3 separate regions of the Homo sapiens genome follow, and all the other regions are linked to region 3. Evidence: fine-mapped expression QTL. A gene starts in region 3. Each other region holds a variant in brackets. All regions are shown on one strand. Distances are between the middles of the regions. Region 1 overlaps PER3 (period circadian regulator 3). Region 2 overlaps PER3 (period circadian regulator 3). Region 3 holds the start of VAMP3 (vesicle associated membrane protein 3).

Region 1 (2,762 bases), 42 kb after region 3:
ATGGATCTTGGTCACTAAATGTTATTAACCTCTATCATTGTCAAATGTAGACGTTTTACACAGTGGGGTGAAATTTTTGAGGTCAATAATGATAACAGCTATATGCTTCAGGACTTGACATGATTTACACCACAGAAAGTCAAACTGCTGCTCCCAGAGGTGACATCACTGGGAACTTTCTTAGTTTGTACTGCTGTAACAAAATACCTGTGACTAGATAATGGATAAAGAACAGAAACCTATTTCTTACAGTTTTGGAGGCGAGGAAGTCCAAGATCAGGGCACCGGCAGGTTCAGTGTCTAGCGAGGGCCAGGTCTGTGCTTCTCAGAGAACATCACTTCCTTGAAGGGGACAAACGCTGTGTCCTCACATGGCACAAGGGACAGAAAGGCAGAAAGAGACTTAGCTAGTTCCTTCTAGCCCTTTTGAAAGGTTGCAAATCCCATTCATGAGAACAGAGTCCTCATGACTTTGTCACTTCCTAAAGGCCGTGGCTGTTCACTGTCACATTGAGTTTTAAGTTGCAACATAGGAGTCATGGGGGACACACACATTCAAACCATAGTAGAGCCCATTGGACTCCCCAGACAGAGCAAGTCCTGTTCTTTCATTTTTTTTCTTTTCACCTCGATAGGAAGTTGAGCATTCCATTGGTTTCTTCTGCTGTTACATGTAAGGGCACAAGATAGGAATCACAGCTGCTTTTTTTATTGTCCCTTGAAACCCCTACATTTCTCCTCTGCAAAAGAATTTATCTTAAATACAATTTTTACTATATAGATTATTATTCCATGTCCTAGCAGAGAGAATTCTTTTAGGAGGTTTTTAAAGCTAAAGTGTCTAAATGTTTTTCTCATTGTCTGGTCCTGCTAGTCCTGCTCACAGCTGCCTGGGCCTAGGATCTCATGGTAGTATCACAGTTTCACACACTGACCTCTGTCCTCATCTCAGTATAGCTTCCCTTCTCACTTGCTGCATTATTCAGTTTCTTATCATCGACCATGGATCTTGTAATGCCATCGGTACTATTTTTTTTTGAAGGCTATATCTTTAAGTAGATGGCAATATTCCATCATTCACTTTTTATAAAATTGAAGCTGCAGGTGGCCGGGTGCAGTGGCTCATGCCTGTAATCCCAGCACTTTGGGAGCCC[G/A]AGGTGGGCAGATCACGAGGTCAGGAGATCGAGACCATCCTGGCTAACATGGTGAAACCCCGTCTCTACTAAAAATACAAAAATTAGCCGGGCGTGGTGGTGGGCGCCTCTAGTCCCAGCTACCTGGGAGGCTGAGGCAGGAGAATGGCGTGAATCCGGGAGGTGGAGCTTGCAGTGAGCCGAGATCGCGCCACTGCACTCCAGCCTGGGCAACAGAGCAAGACTCCGTCTCAAAAAAAAAAAAAAAAAAAAAAAAATTGAAGCTGCAGGTAACTCCGTGTGCTTATGCAGCTACTTTAGAAACTGAAATGTTCCCACTCCTTAGATAGATTCTTACATTTGGCTCTAATAGCACACACAGGATGTGACTTTGGAGAAGAAGGAAGATCTCTTGCCATTTGGCACAGCTTTGGAGAACCAATGTTTCTGGGAGATCTTGATTTTATTAACATTTGGAGACCTACAAGTTTAAAGAGCTACAGAAACCTTTATACTCTTTGCTTGAGAGACATGAGGATGCAACTTAAAAATGTTATAATTTAAATGTTAGAAATTGACTAGAGATGTATACCAATGAAAAGGAAAATGCTTAGTTAAGCATGATCATTGTTTACATGTGTTATAGGAACTTAAGTTTAAAATTTATATTTATCTTTCTTACAACCTAAGAGCAAATAATGCTTTAAAGAGAGATTTTAAAAGTTAGTATGAGTTAATATGGGAGGGCAAGGAATAACAGGGATATGTAAAGCCCCTTCAGCTACATGTACAGAGGCCAACTACAAGAGACATCATTGAGGAAATCTGGGAAAAGTAAGTGTCCATGTCTAGGGTGATGGAATGTCTGAGTGAGAGAAGAGGACCCTTAAGTTGAACAGGTTCAGAGTGAGATTGCTTCCAGTTTCTGCTCAGGGATGTAGAGAGCCAGAAACAGCATCACCCCAGACTTAACAACAGAAAAATCTAGATGAAAGGCAAGTTCAAGACCTTTCTTGACTTCAGAGTGCTGAGGTTACAGAGCAGCCAGCAGGCCTAAAATCTAAGGAGAGAAACATATTTGCAGGGAGGAGCAAGATGCAGCACTGGATTCCAGTGCACCGACAGCCTGAGTCAAGTAACTTGCAAAAGACAGACCCTCTCGAAGGCACAATGCCAAGGAAAGACCAAAAGCTGAAAGTGGAGCAGATACTGAGAAAAAACAAAAAAATTACCCACCAAACCAGCCACCAGCTGAGGCAAGAAGTATAACTAGAGGAATTTGAAAGCTGTTGTACATGCTGTAGAACCATTACAATACTCAAACCTGGCCTAAAAAATAGATTAATTCAGAGGTCTAAAAGAAGGAAAGGCATGCCCAGTCTCTGTGTCCTACACAAGTTACACAGTTCTCAACAAGAAATTATGTAGCATATGATGGGCAAGAAGGGAAAAAAGAAACCTCCCAAGAGACAAAACCATCATCAGAACAAGACTCAGAGAGGACACAGAAGTTGGAACTATCTGACAGGGAAAGTAAAATAATTATGAATGATGTATTAAAGGCTAGTGGACAAAGTGGGCACCATGCAGGACCGGGTGGGTAATCACAGCGTAGAGATGGGCATGAAA
Region 2 (2,762 bases), 73 kb after region 3:
AATCTCAGCAGTTTGGGAGGCCAAGGTGGGCGGATCACGAGGTCAGGGGTTCAAGACCAGCCTGGCCAACATAATGAAACCCTATCTCTACTAAAAAACAAAAATTAGCTGGGCGCGGTGGTGGGCACCTGTGGTCCCAGCTACTTGGGAGGCTGAGGCAAGAGAATCGCTTGAACCTGGGAGGCGGAGGTTGCAGTGAGCTGAGATCGCACCACTGCATTCCAGCCTGGGTGACACCGCAAGACTCTGTCTCAAAAAAAAAAATAAAAATAGTTATAATAATAATAAAGAATGAACTATAATGAAATATTTTCAGACATGAATAAGTTGGGGATTTAGAAACATGTGACCAGCCTTTTACTGTTTTAAAACTCTTTAGGTGACATTGACATCAAGTAACTCGCCTGCTTTGTTCTTTTTTGGAGGCCTGTGTCACTTGTGAAAATGAAGATTCAGCTGATGGTGCGGCCACATCCTGTGGTCAGGTTCTGGTAGAAGACAGCTGTTGAGTGACTGTGAGGATGAACCTTCATACCCTTTCCAAGACGTGTTACACAGACAGACCTTTTTAAGTCCTGGACTTTTAAATGACCATGAAGTTATCATTGAATGTTAAGATTTTTTCTTCTTGATTTTTTAATACACGTAATCTTTTTGAAGCAGACATTGTATACAGAATCTTACTTCTCTTTGTTCCTGATATATTAAAATGGCCAGTTAGGCTCTTTTTGTAGTTGAATTGTCTTCTAAAGAGATTGGATGGCCTCTAAAGAGGTATGTGTATCTTTATTTCAGATGTCACCCAGAGTAAATTATAATTAGAAGTATAGCTAGAATGAGCCCCAAACCTTAGCCTCATTTATTTTGTTCTGTTACATAAGTCATTTTCCCCTTAGAGTGCTTGAAGAAATGCCACCTACAGGTTGTGTACTTTTCATAATGGTTTCCATGAATGTAGTACGTTCATACAGGCTTCATTCAACCTGGCGTTCCCCTCCATAATTAAGATGAAACATTCCGGTTTTCTCACAACACATTAGCACATACTGTCCATTAGCATATCTGGGATAACCAGGTTTTGGGGGTTGAGTTTTGGCCTTCATCCTTGTAGATCCCTTTCCTATTGATTTCCCACCTTCCAGTGAAATTCTGAAAGTCTTATCTTAAAAATCGATCCGCTTACCATGGGCCTATTCTTGTAAGTTTCAGTTAGCATTTGCATGTGTAATATTAAAATGAAAGAGCTTCTTACCCAGTGCTGTTGCCCTTTTGAGTATTTTTGTTTTTAAAATAATGATTGTAAAATGTTTTACAAGTAATGTAAAAGCTAGTATCATTCTTACATACTTCTGTGTTTAAATTTTCATTCTTACCAAAACAGTTAACTCTTTCTTTCCAATCAATTTATACAAAAGAGGTCGCTCCAGCCCTACCACAGGTCTGACTGGCACTGCCTTTTGTTTGCCCTTGAACAGGGCAGTGTTGTGGGGACTGCAAAAGAGAAAACGTCCAGGCGAGCCCAGTTGTCCTC[G/A]CCCACAGGGTCCTGCAGGCTCCATCAGTCACCGCTTTCTATGGCGTTTGTAGTTGTGTCTTTTAAGAAGTGAGTGTGATTGTTTACTTGATAAATCAGCTCACTCTCTGGTGCTTTTTAGAGAAGTCCCTGATTCCTTCTTAAACTTGGAATGATAGATGAAATTCACACCCCTGCAGATCAGAAAAAACAAATAGAAGAAAATGAGGGTTACAGTAACCTGTTGTCTTTATATAACTTGCAACAAACTAATTTATTTTTTTTTCCTTTTTTTGTTTTTGGTTTTTTATGGTTTTTTAAGGAAAATACTTTTCTCCTTTGAAGTTTTACAGCTTTTTGTAAATGCGTCCTGATAATGATTAGGAAAATCGACCTTTTCATCCATGATGACCATCCTCATAGCTCAGATCTCCTTTCAAAGTAGTGGCTTTCTGGATGGTAATTCCATCTTAAGGTGTCAGAACTATTTTCAAATGCTGCCTTTGACAGTTCTTGGAATTTTCTGATATTAAGCAGTTCCATGCAAATATTCGTGTTTTATAAATAGCTCTCATAGTCTGCTCCATCTTGATAGTTAAGTGATTTCTGAAGCGTTTGTGTGTGTGTTGATCAGGTTGTGTGATATTTTTGCTTGATAGAGAATCAAATTTGAAACAATTAACCAGCCAGTAGATTGTCTGTCAGTGACCTTCTGTAGTAATAAAGTTTTTGCCACTGTAAATAAAAACAGTATCCGTAGCTATCAGGATCATTGCGCACTCATATATGCTAAGCCTTCTGTTCTCTAATAGAAGCCTTTCTTTTCCATTGTTTCTGGATATTTGTATTATCCAAATGTGCTTATTTCTTTGCCTTAGCACACGTTTTATGGAGTACTTGTTATACTAGGTTTGATTTGAAACTGGTGCTTGTCGCAGAACTGTCAGAGCATGAGGAGCGCTCCTCCTGTGGGTGGACGCATTCACGCACTCCCAGGTTGCACCTGCTGCTGGCGGTGAGCAGGGGGTTCAGCAGCTTGACCGATGCCCCCCGAGGGGGCTCTCCCCAGCTTAAACTTTGTTGTTTAAATTTGTTAACTTTTTATATTAATGACTATTGAAAGTGGTAATAAAAATTTATATTATAGGCTTCAATGTTTTCATGAATGTTACCCAAAAAGCTGTGTTTTCTTTGGTCAGAGGTCAAAATTTATGAAAAACAAAATGCTGTATGAATGGAAATCATTTTGCAA
Region 3 (2,762 bases):
TGTTTTGAATTGCCCTTAAAATATGGAAAATGTTTTCTGAATGCTTTATATTCTTTCTGCTGTAAATTAAAAATGAAGAAAATTTCCCCATACTACGTGTGTGTTTTGCTTTAATATGACCGGGTAGTGAAATCTAAGGTGATGGGCACATGTTTCAAAACATATGTAATAATGTCAAGGATTTCCTTCTGATCCAGATGTAATGTTTTGACATTGAATGTTACATTGTTTCAGCTAGGTCCATGAAAGAAAAAATGTCTTCCAGCCACCATTCAGAGAGCTTTTCCCCTATCTTTCCAGGCACCTCTCAACATGTCAATCATTTGTGTAAGGCAGTGCAATTATTTGAAAGATAAAGACATTAATTTAATTCACCTTTTCAGTTACAATCCTCTAAAGTCTTCTAAAAGGCATTTTCCAGCAGATTACGAACGTCGTCCTTTCTGAGTATTGTGTCATCGCCGCTCCCTTCCCGTTCACTGCAGAGCCTCTCCTTATCTCCCTAGTGCTCCCTCTTCCATCTAATCCATCTGGCCACTACTGCCAGAGAAATTTTGCATCATGGATCTCCCACGTCCGTAAGTCAATGGTTTCCAGGGCCCACTACAATTAAATGACATTTTTCTTGTTTGTTTATCCTCTTTATTCAGTCTTCTTTTCACTTGTACCCAACCTGCACCCTCTAGGTGGTCTGTGCACACTGCGTCCATTTTCACTGCTGTCTTTGTTCATGGTGTTTGCCCAACCCTTACTTGGAAAGTTCTTTTCCACTAGTACCCAGCTCAAATCCCACCGCCTTTGTGACACTCGTTTATTCGATATATACTAACGTTTCCCTTTTCAAAGTATTCTATTTAGAGTTGGAAAAAACAGCATAGTATTTAAGTACTGTATTTTTCACTTCTCATCTAAGAGACCCACCAATGACCTATTAGTGTTTTATTTTTTGGTGTAGGTAACTATGTTGGTAGGAATATTTCAGTAACAAATATATACAAGGTAACTCACTGCGTTCAGATTTGTGCTTCCCTCCCTTCGACCAAAACCTGAGGACCTATTCTGTGCTAGGGCCTGAAAATACAGAAATAAAGGAACTACAGCCTTGATGCCAAGGCTCTCGTAAGCAGATTATAATATGATCTGCAGTGACAAATATTTGTGTCACCGATGAAAACATGAGCGGGAACCTCACCCAACACCATGTGACAAATACCCGAAATGGACTTCCTATTTCAACTACTTTAGAGAAACATGGTGCCCTCAGGATCACTAGGTTACTCTGGAACACTCAGCAGAAGCCAGTCATCTGTCTCTAATACTGTTAGAAATGGTCCCGAGCCCAGAATAACATGAATTGCCCCCACCCTCACTTATCCACGCAGTCCCTCGCCAGTGGCTAATGCACCACGTTTACAGACCACGTCCCCAAGCGCCAGCGCGGACGGCGGTGCGGACAGGGAGCTGTATTGACCTGCGTTCTGCGTTTCAGAGCCCGGACCGCCCTGGGACCCCTGTGGCCCTCAAGTTCCCAAGTGACCTCGTCCGGGGAGGGGACGTCTCGCTCTGACCCCGCCCTGGACGCACCCACCCACGACGCCCCCGCCCACTTCCGGCGCGCCCCCTCTTCGCCCCGCCCACTCCCCCGGCTCCGCCTAGTGACGTCTTTGCCCCGCGCCGCGCCGTCCCACCCATCTCCCTGGCCTCCGGTCCCAACTTCGCTTCTCTGCTGACCCTCTCTCGTCGCCGCTGCCGCCGCCGCAGCTGCCAAAATGTGAGTGACGCTACGCGACGCGGGCGGCTTCGGGCCCCGCAGGCGGCAGCTCGCGCTGGGACCGCCATACTGCCCAGTTGCCGCCGGCCGCCACTCGGACGCAGGCCGGGGCTGCGCGGGGATCCCGAGGCCTGGGGGTGGGCGGTGGCCCTTGGGTCGCGGGCTGCAGACGGGCCGGGCGGGTCCCGCGGCCATCGGGCGGACGCGGAAGGGGCAAGGGCGGGGCGGCGAGACGCTTCCCGGAGGAAGTGAGCTGCCCGCCCGCAGCCCGCTCCTCGCCCCTTCCCTTTCTAGTCCCCGACGTCCCTGAGAGGAATGGGGACGACAGCCCTGGTTCGGGAGCGCCCGCTCTCGGCCCGGTGCTGCGCTGGGCCCCAGAAGTTGCGAAAGAAAGGACCTCGGCCCTGTCCTGAGCCCCTGTGGGCCGAAGAGCTCCTTGCCTAGCTAGGGGCATCTGCACTGGAAAGATCACTTAACCGTGGGCCTTCGCTCTCTTAAGCGAAAGCACGTTGCAAACCCCTGCTTCCAGTGGTAAGACTCAGAGAATGCTAATGGTTAAGAATCACAAGGACTCCCTCTTCCACCTCCATTCTGCTCATTGCTCACCGTCGGAGGAAGCCCCGGGTTTCTTCCAGGAGCTGGGGACCCCCCTCGAATGTTCCTGCTGAGGCTGCTGTGCCAATAGATCACAGTGGTTAAGATCTAGAGCCAAGGTACACAGGACCTGATCTAAAAACAAGCTGTCCTGCAGCCAGCTGTGTTGACTCTCTAAACCTCACTTTACTCATTTGTAAAATAGGAGTAATATTCCCCTCAGAGAGTTATGAGGGTTAAAGGAGGAAAAGCATGGAAAGAGTCTAGCGCCACGGCATGGTCCTTACTTATCTACCAGATACTAAACTCCGTGAGGACGGTGATGAGATCTGTTGTAGCCCTGGTCATTGACACATGACAGATGTAAAGTGACTGTTCAAACAGCCCATCAGACTGT

What was found. PIP is the estimated chance that this variant, and not a neighbour inherited with it, causes the effect.
Region 1: its variant is the best candidate, but not a certain one, in a credible set for the expression of VAMP3 in whole blood (INTERVAL, PIP 0.67).
Region 2: its variant is the best candidate, but not a certain one, in a credible set for the expression of VAMP3 in whole blood (TOPMed, PIP 0.58).

Annotation. Positions count from the first base shown.
Region 1 is chr1:7,811,239-7,814,000 of GRCh38, forward strand. The region is part of intron 13 of PER3 (period circadian regulator 3); the gene reads left to right. LOC124903833 (a long non-coding RNA gene) reads right to left here. Exons shown (of 2, transcript XR_007065450.1): 2 at 1-366. Among named protein-coding and RNA genes, the nearest start is that of PER3, 28 kb to the left of the region's middle. RefSeq lists a silencer at 37-237. The variant G/A (reference allele first, on the strand shown) is at 1,155.
Region 2 is chr1:7,842,247-7,845,008 of GRCh38, forward strand. It overlaps PER3 (period circadian regulator 3), which reads left to right. Exons shown (of 22, transcript NM_001377275.1): 22 at 426-2,762. The coding sequence ends at 509. Among named protein-coding and RNA genes, the nearest start is that of UTS2, 9.4 kb to the right of the region's middle. The variant G/A (reference allele first, on the strand shown) is at 1,532.
Region 3 is chr1:7,769,615-7,772,376 of GRCh38, forward strand. It overlaps VAMP3 (vesicle associated membrane protein 3), which reads left to right and starts at 1,682. Exons shown (of 5, transcript NM_004781.4): 1 at 1,682-1,771. The coding sequence starts at 1,770. It overlaps CAMTA1 (calmodulin binding transcription activator 1), which reads left to right. Exons shown (of 23, transcript NM_015215.4): 23 at 1-92. RefSeq lists enhancers at 886-1,582, 1,326-1,375 and silencers at 1,609-1,851, 1,816-2,045.